Regions from separate parts of the Homo sapiens genome. Here region 1 is linked to region 2. The links come from fine-mapping of genetic effects on gene expression. A gene starts in region 2. The other region holds a variant in brackets. All regions are shown on one strand. Distances are between the middles of the regions.

Region 1 (5,371 bases), 110 kb before region 2:
TCAGCCTCCCGAGTAGCTGGGACTACAGGCGCCCGCCAGCACACCCAGCTAATTTTTGTATTTTTTTAGTAGAGATGGGGTTTCACCTTGTTAGCCAGGATGGTCTCGATCTGACCTGGTGATCTGCCTGCCTCGGCCTCCCAAAGTGCTGGGATTACAGACGTGAGCCACCGCGCCCGGCCCAGTTCACTTTATTCTATATCTCTGTTACCTATAGACAAAAAGCCCTATGGTTCGTGTTTGTTTTTTACTTTTTACTTTTTTTTTTTTTTGAGACAGATTCTTGTTCTGTTACCCAGGAGGAAGTGCGGTGGTGCTATCTCGGCTAACCAACCTCCGCCTCCTGGGTTCAAGCGATTCTCCTGCCTTAGCCTCCCAAGTAGCTGGGATTACAAGTGTACACAACCATGCCTGGCTAATATTTGTACTTTTAGTAGAGACCAGGTTTCACCATGTTGGCCAGGCTACTCTGGAAACCCTGACCTCAGGTGATCCACTTGCCTCGGCCTCCCAAAGTGCTGGGAGTATAGGCGTGAGCCACCGTGCCCAGCCTTGTTTTTTACTTTTTTTTTTTTTTTTGGGACTGGGTCTCACTCTGTTGTCCAGGCTGGAGTGTGGTGGTGTAGTCTTGGTTCACTGCAGCCTCCACCTCCTGGGCTCAAGCAATCCTCCCACCTTAGCCTCTAGAGTAGCTGGGACTACAGGCACATGCCACCACACCTGGCTTTTTAAAAAAAAATTTAGACTGGGTGTGGTGGCTCACGCCTGTAATCCCAACACTTTGGGAGCCTGAGGAGGGTGGATCACCTGAGGTCTGGAGTTCGAGACGAGCCTGGCCAACGTGGTGAAACCCTGTCTCTACTAAAAATACAAAAATTAGCCAGGCATGGTGGCATGTGCCTATAAATCCCAGCTACTTGGGAAAATTTTTTTAATAGAGACCGGGTTTCACTATGTTGCCCAGGCTGTTCTCAAACTCCTGAGCTCAAGGGATCCTCCTGCCTTGGCCTCTCAAAGTGCTGAGATTACAGGCATGAGCCATGGCACCCAGACTTGTTTTTATTTAAAACCTTATTTTGAAAAAAATTTAAACATAGAAAAAAATTGTGAGAATACCATGAACTCCAATATCCATACAATTCACCAAGTGTCCAACTGTTGATTCACCAATTAACATTTGCCTCATTTGCTTAATCTCTCTATATATACAGATAGGTTATTATGTTTAATGTTATTGAATCATTTGAAATTACAGACACCGTCCTCTGTCCCTTTACTCCTAAATACTTCATTGGTGTCTCCTAAAAATGAGAACATTCTTGGCCAGGCTTGGTGGCTCATGCCTGTAACCCCAGCACTTTGGGAGGCTAAGGCACGAGGATTACCTGAGGTCAGGAGTTTGAGACCAGCCTTGCCAACATGGTGAAACCCCATCTCTACTAAAAAATACAAAAATTAGCCAGTACGGTTGTGGGCACCTGTAATCCCAGCTACTTGTGAGGCTCAGGCAGGAGAATTGCTTGAACCTGAGAAGCAGAGGTTGCAGGGAGCTGAGATCGAGCAACTGCACTCCAGCCTAAGGGACAGAACAAGACTGTCTCTCAAAAAAAAAAAAAAAAAAAAAAAAGAACATTCTCTTATACAATGATCAAATGAAGGAAATTTAACATCGCCATGACACAGACACTGTTATCTACTATACAGTCCATAGTGCAATTTCCCTGATTGTTTCAATTATGTCCTTTATAGCAAGATGTGTTGCAGTTAGCTGTCGTGCCACTTTAGTCTCCTTTAATCTGGAACATTTCCTCTCTCTTTCTGGCTTTCATTCTAGAAGTACACAAGTTATGTGCCCCAGAAGTGTGTTGTAACTTTCCCGGGTGTCAGTCGTTTCAGGAGCCCATGAGGTCTGTTTGTTCCAATAGTGGGACGTATTGATCATTTGGTTAAAGAGAAATTCACCAGTTTTCTCCCCTGCAAAGTTAGTTTTTCTTTTGTGATAAATAAGTAATCTGTTGGGAGATACTTCATGACTGTGGAAATATCCTGTGCCCCATCTGACGATGATTCCAGCCTGGTCCTGTTGTACTTGCCAGTCATTCAAGGAAAGTGCAGCTGGCTGGTGCCCAGGCTGGGAGGCGCTGGAGGTGGCAGAGCCAGGCTGGGCAGAGAAGGAAAAGCAACCAGGACAAGAATCTGTGCAGAGAGCAGGGAAGGCATTTGGGATGCCTCGCCGGGAGCCTTCATGCAGCTCACCAAGGGGTGGGTGGTGGACACCCCACTCCCCTTCAACGCCCACCAGGCACTTCTGGGCTACCACAATGGGGCTGGCTCTTTGCTGGGATCATGCCCTGGAGAGAGGCCAGTTTGCAAGAGGCAAAAGGAAGGCTCTTTCCCTCCTCACTCCCCAATGGCCTCTAGTGATCCCTGGTCAGGAGGTAGAGGGGAGAAAGCACCAAAGGCAGAAGTACAGTATTTGAGAGTAAATTACATTAGAGTAAATATTATCTCCAGGATATTTCCAGGGTGCAGCAAATCTGCAAGGTTCCAGACACCTGGGCCTGGCCTGGCCCCACTAGCCAGGCCCTTCCACCGGTCCCTGGCCTGTTGCTCTGCTCCCTGCAAATATCTGCTGTGCTGTTGGACACAACCCTAGGCTGGCAGTCAAGGTGGAATGGGAGTGGGGGTGGTTTGCATGATGCCCACAGGATACACACACAGTCCTAGGTGGACTGGCCGTGAGCTGCTGGAGGTGTATTGGTTTCCCAGACTGTCATAACAGATGACCACAAACTGGGTGACTTGGCACAACAGAAACTTATTCTCCCACAGCTCCGGAGATCAGAAGTGTGAAATCGCCAGGCGCAGTGGCTCATGCCTGTAATCTCAGCACTTTGGGAGGCAGAGGAGGGCAGATCACCTGAGGTCGGGAGTTTGAGACCAGCCTGACCAACATGGAGAAACTCCATCTCTACTAAAAATACAAAATTAGCTGGGCATGGAGGTACATGCCTGTAATCCCAGCTACTCGGGAGGCTGAGGCAGGAGAATACCTTGAACCCAGGAGGCAGAGGTTGTGGTAAGCCAAGATGACACCATTGCACTCCTGCCCCTGGGCAACAAAAGTGAAACTCCATCTCAAAAAAAAAAAAAAA[T/AAT]GGCTGGGGGCAGTGGCTCACACCTGTAATTCTAGCACTTTGGGAGGCCGGAAGGCGGGTGGATCACCTGAGGTCAGGAGTTCAAGACCAGCCTGGCCAACATGATGAAACCCCGTCTCTACTAAAAATACAAAAATTAGCCAGGCATGGTGGTGCATGCCTGAAATCCCAGCTACTCAGGAGACTGAGGCAGGAGAATCACTTGAACCTGGGAGGCGAAGGTTGCAGTGAACTGAGATCGTGCCATTGCACTCCAGCATGGGGGATAAGAGCGAGACTTTGTCTCAAAAAAAAAAAAAAGATAATAGCTATATAACTAGATGGACAGGTAGAGGATGGATGAATGATAGGTATATAGATAGAAGGATAAATAGATAATAGATAGATGATAAATAATAGGTATATAGGTAGATGGATAGATGATAGACGGAAGATAGGTATCTAGATAGATGGATAGATAGATGATAGATGATTGATAGATGATAGATGCATGGATGATAAGTATATAGATAGATGGATAGATAAATAGATGATGGATGGACGGATGATAGGTATATAGATAGATGGATAAATAGATAATAGATAGATGATAGGTATATAGATGGATAGATAGTTGGATGACAGATAGATGGATGGATAGGTAGATAGATGATAAGTAGATAATGAGATAGACAGATAGATAATAGGCAGGTGGATTTTTTTTTTTTTTTTTGAGACAGAATCTGTCTCTGTCACCCAGGCTGGAGTGCGGTAGTGCGATGTCGGCTCATTGCAAGCTCCGCCTCCCGGGTTCACACCATTCTCCTGCCTCAGCCTCCCAAGTAGCTGGGACTACAGGCGCCCGCCACCAAGCCCAGCTAATTTTTTTGTATTTTTAGTAGAGATGGGGTTTTACTGTGTTAGCCAGGATGGTCTCGATCTCCTGACCTTGTGATCTGCCCGCCTCGGCCTCCCAAAATGCTGGGATTACAGGCGTGAGCCACTGCGCCCGGCCATAGGTAGGTAGGTATTTTCTGTGGCTTCTGAAGCCTTCTAGTCAATTGTGTCTCGATTGGATCCTCTGGAAAAAAAAGCATCCAGACCTCAAAAACTAAGGACAGGGACTCTAGAATTTCTGAACTGATGAGTTAAAATAGCTTAGGAATGGGCTCTCAGTTGGGGAATTGCCACATGAGGACACGTTTTAATCATTAATGCTGATGCAGGCCAGATTGCTTTCCAAGAAACCCTGCCCTGTCACTTTTTCCAGCCATTCTTGTCTGAGGAGGCAGAGGAATTGAGCAAGCCTGGACTGTGAGCTGTGCCTGGGTTGGTGGCCAGAGTTTGAGCAGGGGTGTGTGCAGGACAGGGTGTGATGGTGGAATGAGCAGTTCCTTGGGTCCTCCAAGTACCAGGGAAATGCCACAACTGGACACTTCCAGAGGGACCACACTCCTCCAGGTTTGGAGGCCATGGAGAAGAATCCAGGTTCCAAATATGACCCCTTTTCCCCTGCGCTTCTGAAAAACAGCCAAGGGTCACCTTTTTCTTTCTTTTTTTTTCATGAGACAGTGTCTTGCTTTGTCACCCTGGCTGGAGTGCAGAGGCATGATCATAGCTCCCTCCAGCCTCAAACTCCTGGGCCTCCAGCCTCCCGAGTAGCTAGGACTACAAGTGTGTGCCACCATGCCCAGCTTTTTTGTTTGTTTGTTTTGTAGAGACAGGGGTCTCACTACATTGCCCAGGCTAGTCTCAAATTCCTGGCCTCAAGCAATCCTCCAGCCTTGGTCTCCGGAAGTACTGTGATTATAGGCATGGGCCACCAAGCCCAGCCAAGGATCACTTCTTATCCGATATTATATCTCAAGAAATTTTGCAATTTAAAAAATTAACTTGGTATGAGGCAGCTAAGTACCCTGTACTGTCTGATCAGGGAATCTTAACTGGGAGCTTAACCTGGAGAGATACTTCAAAATTCATAGATGACAGACCCCCTTCTCTGAAACCCTCAAATCAGATCTGAGGCCTAGACTCATGCTGTTTGAGGAAAGTCCATGGAGATTCTAACGCAAGGCTTGAACTGAGGGCCAGTGCAAAAGAACATGGCGAGAATATGGCCAGCCCACGACCTTGATTTCTTTTTCTTTTCCTGTTAAAAATGTCAGTTTCACTGGAATCATCAAAAAATCACATTCTAGAAAATGTGCTAAGCCAGCATTTCTCACTTTAATGAGCAT
Region 2 (5,371 bases):
CAGGAAGGACTCGAGAAATGCCAGCTGTTACTAAGGGAGGGCTGGCAGGGGATAGGACATGCTTCAGCTCCACTCCTGGTTCCTGTATGCACCCCAGAGACCTCTCCAGTGCTCTGGCCCTGAGCTGTGAGCTGACTCCTCTATGCCCAACAGTCCCGACTGCCAAAGGACTCTGCCCTGCAGAGGCAGCCTCCGCCCCCACCCCATCTTTGAGCTGGTCCTGCCCCTTACCCCACAGCTGCCCCACCAAGCCTAGATCTCCAGCAAAGCACCACGTGGGGCCCTGGTCCTGATCACTGGAGCCAGCCAGTCAGAATTGGGGCCAGCCTGCCCCTCAGCCAGGAGCCTGGCACCGCCTCCCCCAGCGGGCTCCTGGGCCACCCTGCCTAGGTTGTTAGTAATAAAAATAACTACTTAATAAGTGGAGCTGCAGCCAAACCAATTAGTGCCAACCTACAGGAAGGCCTGGGGCAACCTGAGGTCACCTAGAACACTGGGCTTGTTGGAAGCCAGACCACTCTGCTCTAGAACCAAACTCCTATCCTTACTGGCAGGCATAAGAGGACCCCACAGGGAGATCAGAGTGAGGTGCCTCCCCTTGGGCACTGAGGAGAGTGGAGGCCTAGTGTGGTAGCAGAAGGTGCTACTCCAAGCCAGGACACATCTGGGCCAGAATGGTCTCTTCAGGGCCAGGGGATGGGGCACTGAGTTGGGCTGGGTTGAATGAGCAACAGTTAAGGTCGAATGTACATGGGAAATACCAGTTTTGGTTTTGGGACTTGTGGGTTTTTTTTCTTTTTTTGAGGTGGAGTCTTGCTTTGTCGCCCAGGCTGGAGTGCAGTGGTGCGATCTCAGCTCACTGCAACCTCCGCCTCCCGAGTTCAAGCGATTCTCCTGCCTCAGCCTCCCGAATAGCTGGGACTACAGGCACCCACCACTACACCCAGCTAATTTTTGCATTTTTAGTAGAGACGGGGTTTCACCATGTTGGCCAGGCTGGTCTCAAACTCCTGACCTCAGGTGATCTGCCCACCTCGACCTCCCAAAGTGCTGGGATTACAGGTGTGAGCCACCATGCCTGCCAGGTTTTTTTATTTTTATTTTTTTGAAACTGGATCTCACTCTGTTGCCTGGGCTGGAGTGCAGTGGTGAGATCATGCTCACTGCAGTCTCAAACTCCTGGGCTCAAGCAATCCTCATGCCTCCGCCTCCTGTGAGACTACAGGTGTACGCCACCACACCTGGGTAATTTTCAAAATCTTTTTGTAGAGACAGGGTCTCATTACATTGCCCTGGCTGGTCTGGAATTCCTGGGCTTCAGCAGTCCTCCCGCCTCGGCCTCCCAAAGTAGAAATATCAGTATTGTTGTGGTTAGCCACCATTTATTGAGCACCTACTGTTGCTCAGCCCTGTGCTAGGGATTTCACATATGTTATTACGGCCTTTTATGAGGTGGGCAATATTACCCCTATTTCACAAATGAGGAAAGAGGTTTAAAGGGCTCAAGTGACTGGTACAGAAACCAAGTCTGTTTGGCTCCAAAGTCCAGGCCCTACCCCCCTGCCATGACCCAGAAGCTTGCAGGGCACTGAGCTTGCAGGGCATTGAGAAAGAGGAAGTGAATTGCTAGCTAATGAAGGCCAAAAGGGCCTGGAACCCAGACCTCCTGCTTCCCGGAGTTCCCTTCATCAAGCATCAGGCGAACAGCCCCTCTCACCTGAAGGGTCCAAAGCAATGGCCTCATAATCTAGTGCCTTACAGAGTGAGGCCGACAGCTATTATTACCCCCATTGCCAGATAAATCAACTATGGCCCAAGGAAGGAAAACCTCTGCCTGGGAATCCAGCATCTCAGTGGTCAGGAGGAGAGGCCAGGAGCCACTGACCCTAAGAGGCAGGGTCCAGTGAGACAGGAAGGGACCAGGCACCAGGGTTGCTGGAGCCACGAGGCGACGTCCCCTTTTTCCTGGCTCTTTCCACATGCCACAGTCAAGGACAAGAACACTTAGGGGCTGAGCTTTATTCTATAAACAGGGACAATTGCTCTAGCAGGAGAAGGGATGTGGTGTGGGGTGGGACCTGACAGGAGGACACGTGGTAAGAAGGAAGGAAGAGTTGGAAGGCTGAAGGCTTGGGAGCCACTTTTCCTGGCCAGGCAGGCATCACTGTGAGGTGAGGGCAGAGCCACTCTACCCCTAGTAGTGTGGGTTGGTGGGTTTGCCACAAGGGCTGCCTGCGGATACTGGTGAGTCCTGGTAAAGGTGACTGCTGGGCTCCAGATGATGCGCCCGGGAGGGCTGGGGGTGCAGGCTTCCTAGGTAATTTTCAAAATTGCTTCCTGGAGGGCGATTCCCAGCAGGGTGGCCCGAGGCAGGTCTGGCGCCCCCACTCTCTCCTTTGGAGGCTAGGAGGACCGGAGTCCCCGAGGTCCCACTCACCTCCGAGGCCATGTTGGGCGGTTCCTCGTCGTCCGGAAGCTTCGGTCCTCCGGGTCTGGAAGACAAGACCGGACTGACGACCTCCTTGGCCAGCAGGGTCCCCCGGGCCGGGCTGGCTCCGAGTTCTGGGCACTGCGCTTGAGGGAGCGCAGCCCTTGGGGACGCGGACGTGAGCGCGCGCCACGGTGCTCGGCGTCCTCCACGCCCGTCCCGCCCATCCGGCCGCCGCGCACTCACCTCCGCCTGGCCGCACGGATAGTGTCGCGCCCGCCACTGGCCAGGGCTTTTCTGGCCGGGATGGCGTCAGCAGCCGCCGGTCCTGTCCCCACCCCTGGCGACGGCCGCGCCAATAGGAGGCCGCCCGGCGGGGTGGGCGTTGCCTCCATCCTCCAATCCTGGCCGTGGGCGGGGATACCTCCCGCTGAGCTGGAGGCTAAGCGGCCCCGGGGCGGGGAAGCGGGCGGGGAAAGGGTTGGGGGGACCCCGACGGGGAAGGGGCCTGGGCTGGGGTTGAGGAGGGTAGTGCGCTGGCGTTCGTGCTGTGGTCAGCAGACACGCAGGGGACTGGAGACTCGGGCCAGGGGTAGAGGCTATGACATCAGGCCCGGGCCTGGCAGGTTCACAAGATATATAAGGTGAAATGGCATGTTCGCTCATTCACTCATTCATTCATTCATTCAACAAACACGTACCAGGCACCTCTATGTGCCAGGTACAGAGAAAGGCATCAAGGAAAAAGGAAGGACCATCAGAAATGAAGCCTGTGCCAGGCGCGGTGGCTCACAGCTGTAATCCCAGCACTTTGGGAGGCCGAGGTGGGAGGATCGCTTGAGGCTACGAGTTGGAGACCAGCCTGGGCAATACAACAAGATCCCGTCTCTACAAAAAAATTAATAATAATAAAAAAAAAGCCGGGCGTGGTGGTGCACGCCTGCAGTCCTAGCTACTCAGGAGGCTGAGGCGGGAGGAGCACTTGAGCCCAGGAGTTCGAAGCTGCAGTGAGCTATTGTGCCACGGCACTCCAGCCTGACTCCTCTAAAAAAGAAAAGAAACGCGGCCGGAGGCCGGGCGCGGTGGCTCACGCCTGTAATCCCAGCACTTTGGAAGGCCGAGGCGGGTGGATCACGAGGTCAGGAGTTTGAGACCAGCCTGGCCAAGGTGGTGAAACCCCGTCTCTACTAAGAATACAAAAATTAGCCGGGCACGGTGGCGGGTGCCTGCAATCCCAGCGACTCCGGAGGCTGAGGCAGGAGAATCTCTTGAACCCGGGAGGCGGAGATTGCAGTGAGCTGAGATGGTGCCATTGCACTCCAGCCTGGGTGACAGAGCAAGATTCTGTCTCAAAAAAAAAAAAAAAAAAAAAAAGAAAGAAAGAAAGAAAGAAAGAAAAGAAAAGAAAAAAGAAACGCAGCCGGGCACAGTGGCTTACGCCTTTAATCCCAGCACTTTGAGAGGCTGAGGCGGGCGGATCACCTGAGGTCAGGAATTCGAGATGAGCCTGGCTGACATGGTGAAACCTTGTCTCTATTAGCCGGGTGTGGTGGTGGGTGCCTGTAGTCCCAGCTACTCCGACAGCTGAGGCAGGAGAATCACTTGAACCAGGGAGGTGGAGGCTGCAGTGAGCTGAGACGGCACCACTGCACTGCAGCCTGGGCGACAGTGAGACTCTTGTCTCGAAAAAAAAAAAAAAAAAAGAAAGAAAGAAAGAAAAAGAAAAAGAGAAGAGAAAACAAAGAAAGAAACGAAACAAAAGAAATGAAGCCTGACTTCAAGAAGTTCCAACATAGCATGGAGGAGGTGTGCAGGGAGCACAGGCGTTGGGGAGGGGGGCTATGTTGGGTACTCAGGGAAGAGGTCCTTGATCTGATTAATTAATTATTCAACCAAAATGTCAGGCTGGATTCTAGGCACTGGAAGTACCCTGAAGGGGCTTCTAATGAACCTGTCTTCTGCATTGGGTCTTGGAAGATGGGGGGAATTTGCCCAGGGAAGAAGGGGAGAACATTCCAGGCAGAGGGAGAAGTCTGGACAAAAAATGTGACTGGCCTGCTTTAAGAACAGGAAATCATCCAAGTGGCTGTAACTATAACAAAAGGTAGGGAGGAGAGGTGGAAGGAGTTTGGGAGAAGGCTGTGAAGAGTCTTCAATGTCAAGAGAGGGAGTTTGTTCTTGGTCCTATAGGTCATAGGAAACCCCGATCGATTTTAAAATCAGAGGAGCCAAATTTATTTTATTTTATTTTATTTTTATTTATTTTTTTGAGATGGAGTTTCGCTCTTATTGCCCAGGCTAGAGTGCAATGGCACGGTCCCAGCTCACTGCAACCTCTGCCTCCCAGGTTCAAGCGATTCTCCTGCCTCAGCCTTCCAAGTAGCTGGGGTTACAGGCATGCACCACCACGCCTGGCTAATTTTATATTTTTAGTAGAGATGGGGTCTCTCCATGTTGGCCAGGCTGTTCTTGAACTCCTGACCTCAGGTGATCTGCCCGCCTCAGCCTCCCAAAGTGCTGGGATACAGGGGTGAGCCACTGCGCCCGGCTGAAACCCCATGTTAAAAAAGAAAGAAAGGAAGGAAGGAAGATAAATCTAGCTATAGTATTGAGGATGGAATGGAGGGAGAAGAAGAGACCAGTGGCTGGAATGTTTTGTGATTTGAAGGTGTTTAGCCCTCACTCAACTCAAGAGTGGAATTACTTGGAGTTCCCAGAATGCACCTGACTGTTTCAAGCCTTCCTAAATGCTCTTCCCTGTGCCTGGGATGCCCTTCCCTCAGTGTCGGTCTTGCCACCTCCCATTCGTCCATCAGTATTTTTTTTTTTTTTGAGACGGAGTCTCGCTCTGTCCCCCAGGCTGGAGTGCAGTGGCACAATCTCGGCTCAATGCAAGCTCCACCTCCTGGGTTCACGCCATTCTCCTGCCTCAGCCTCCTGAGT

Which allele goes with the higher level. Positions count from the first base shown, and alleles are read on the strand shown. Sizes are in standard deviations (SD) of each study's normalised expression.
As copies of AAT replace T in region 1, the expression in NK cells of the gene that starts at base 2,712 in region 2 goes down (moderate effect, 0.56 SD a copy in Gilchrist 2021).

What was found. PIP is the estimated chance that this variant, and not a neighbour inherited with it, causes the effect.
Region 1: its variant is the best candidate, but not a certain one, in a credible set for the expression of ASL in NK cells (Gilchrist 2021, PIP 0.77).

The regions. Positions count from the first base shown.
Region 1 is chr7:66,187,157-66,192,527 of GRCh38, reverse strand. No RefSeq gene overlaps it. Among named protein-coding and RNA genes, the nearest start is that of TPST1, 15 kb to the left of the region's middle. The variant T/AAT (reference allele first, on the strand shown) is at 3,156.
Region 2 is chr7:66,073,160-66,078,530 of GRCh38, reverse strand. ASL (argininosuccinate lyase) reads right to left here and starts at 2,712. Exons shown (of 17, transcript NM_000048.4): 1 at 2,675-2,712; 2 at 2,438-2,492. The coding sequence starts at 2,449. RefSeq lists an enhancer at 2,162-2,441 and a silencer at 2,542-3,071.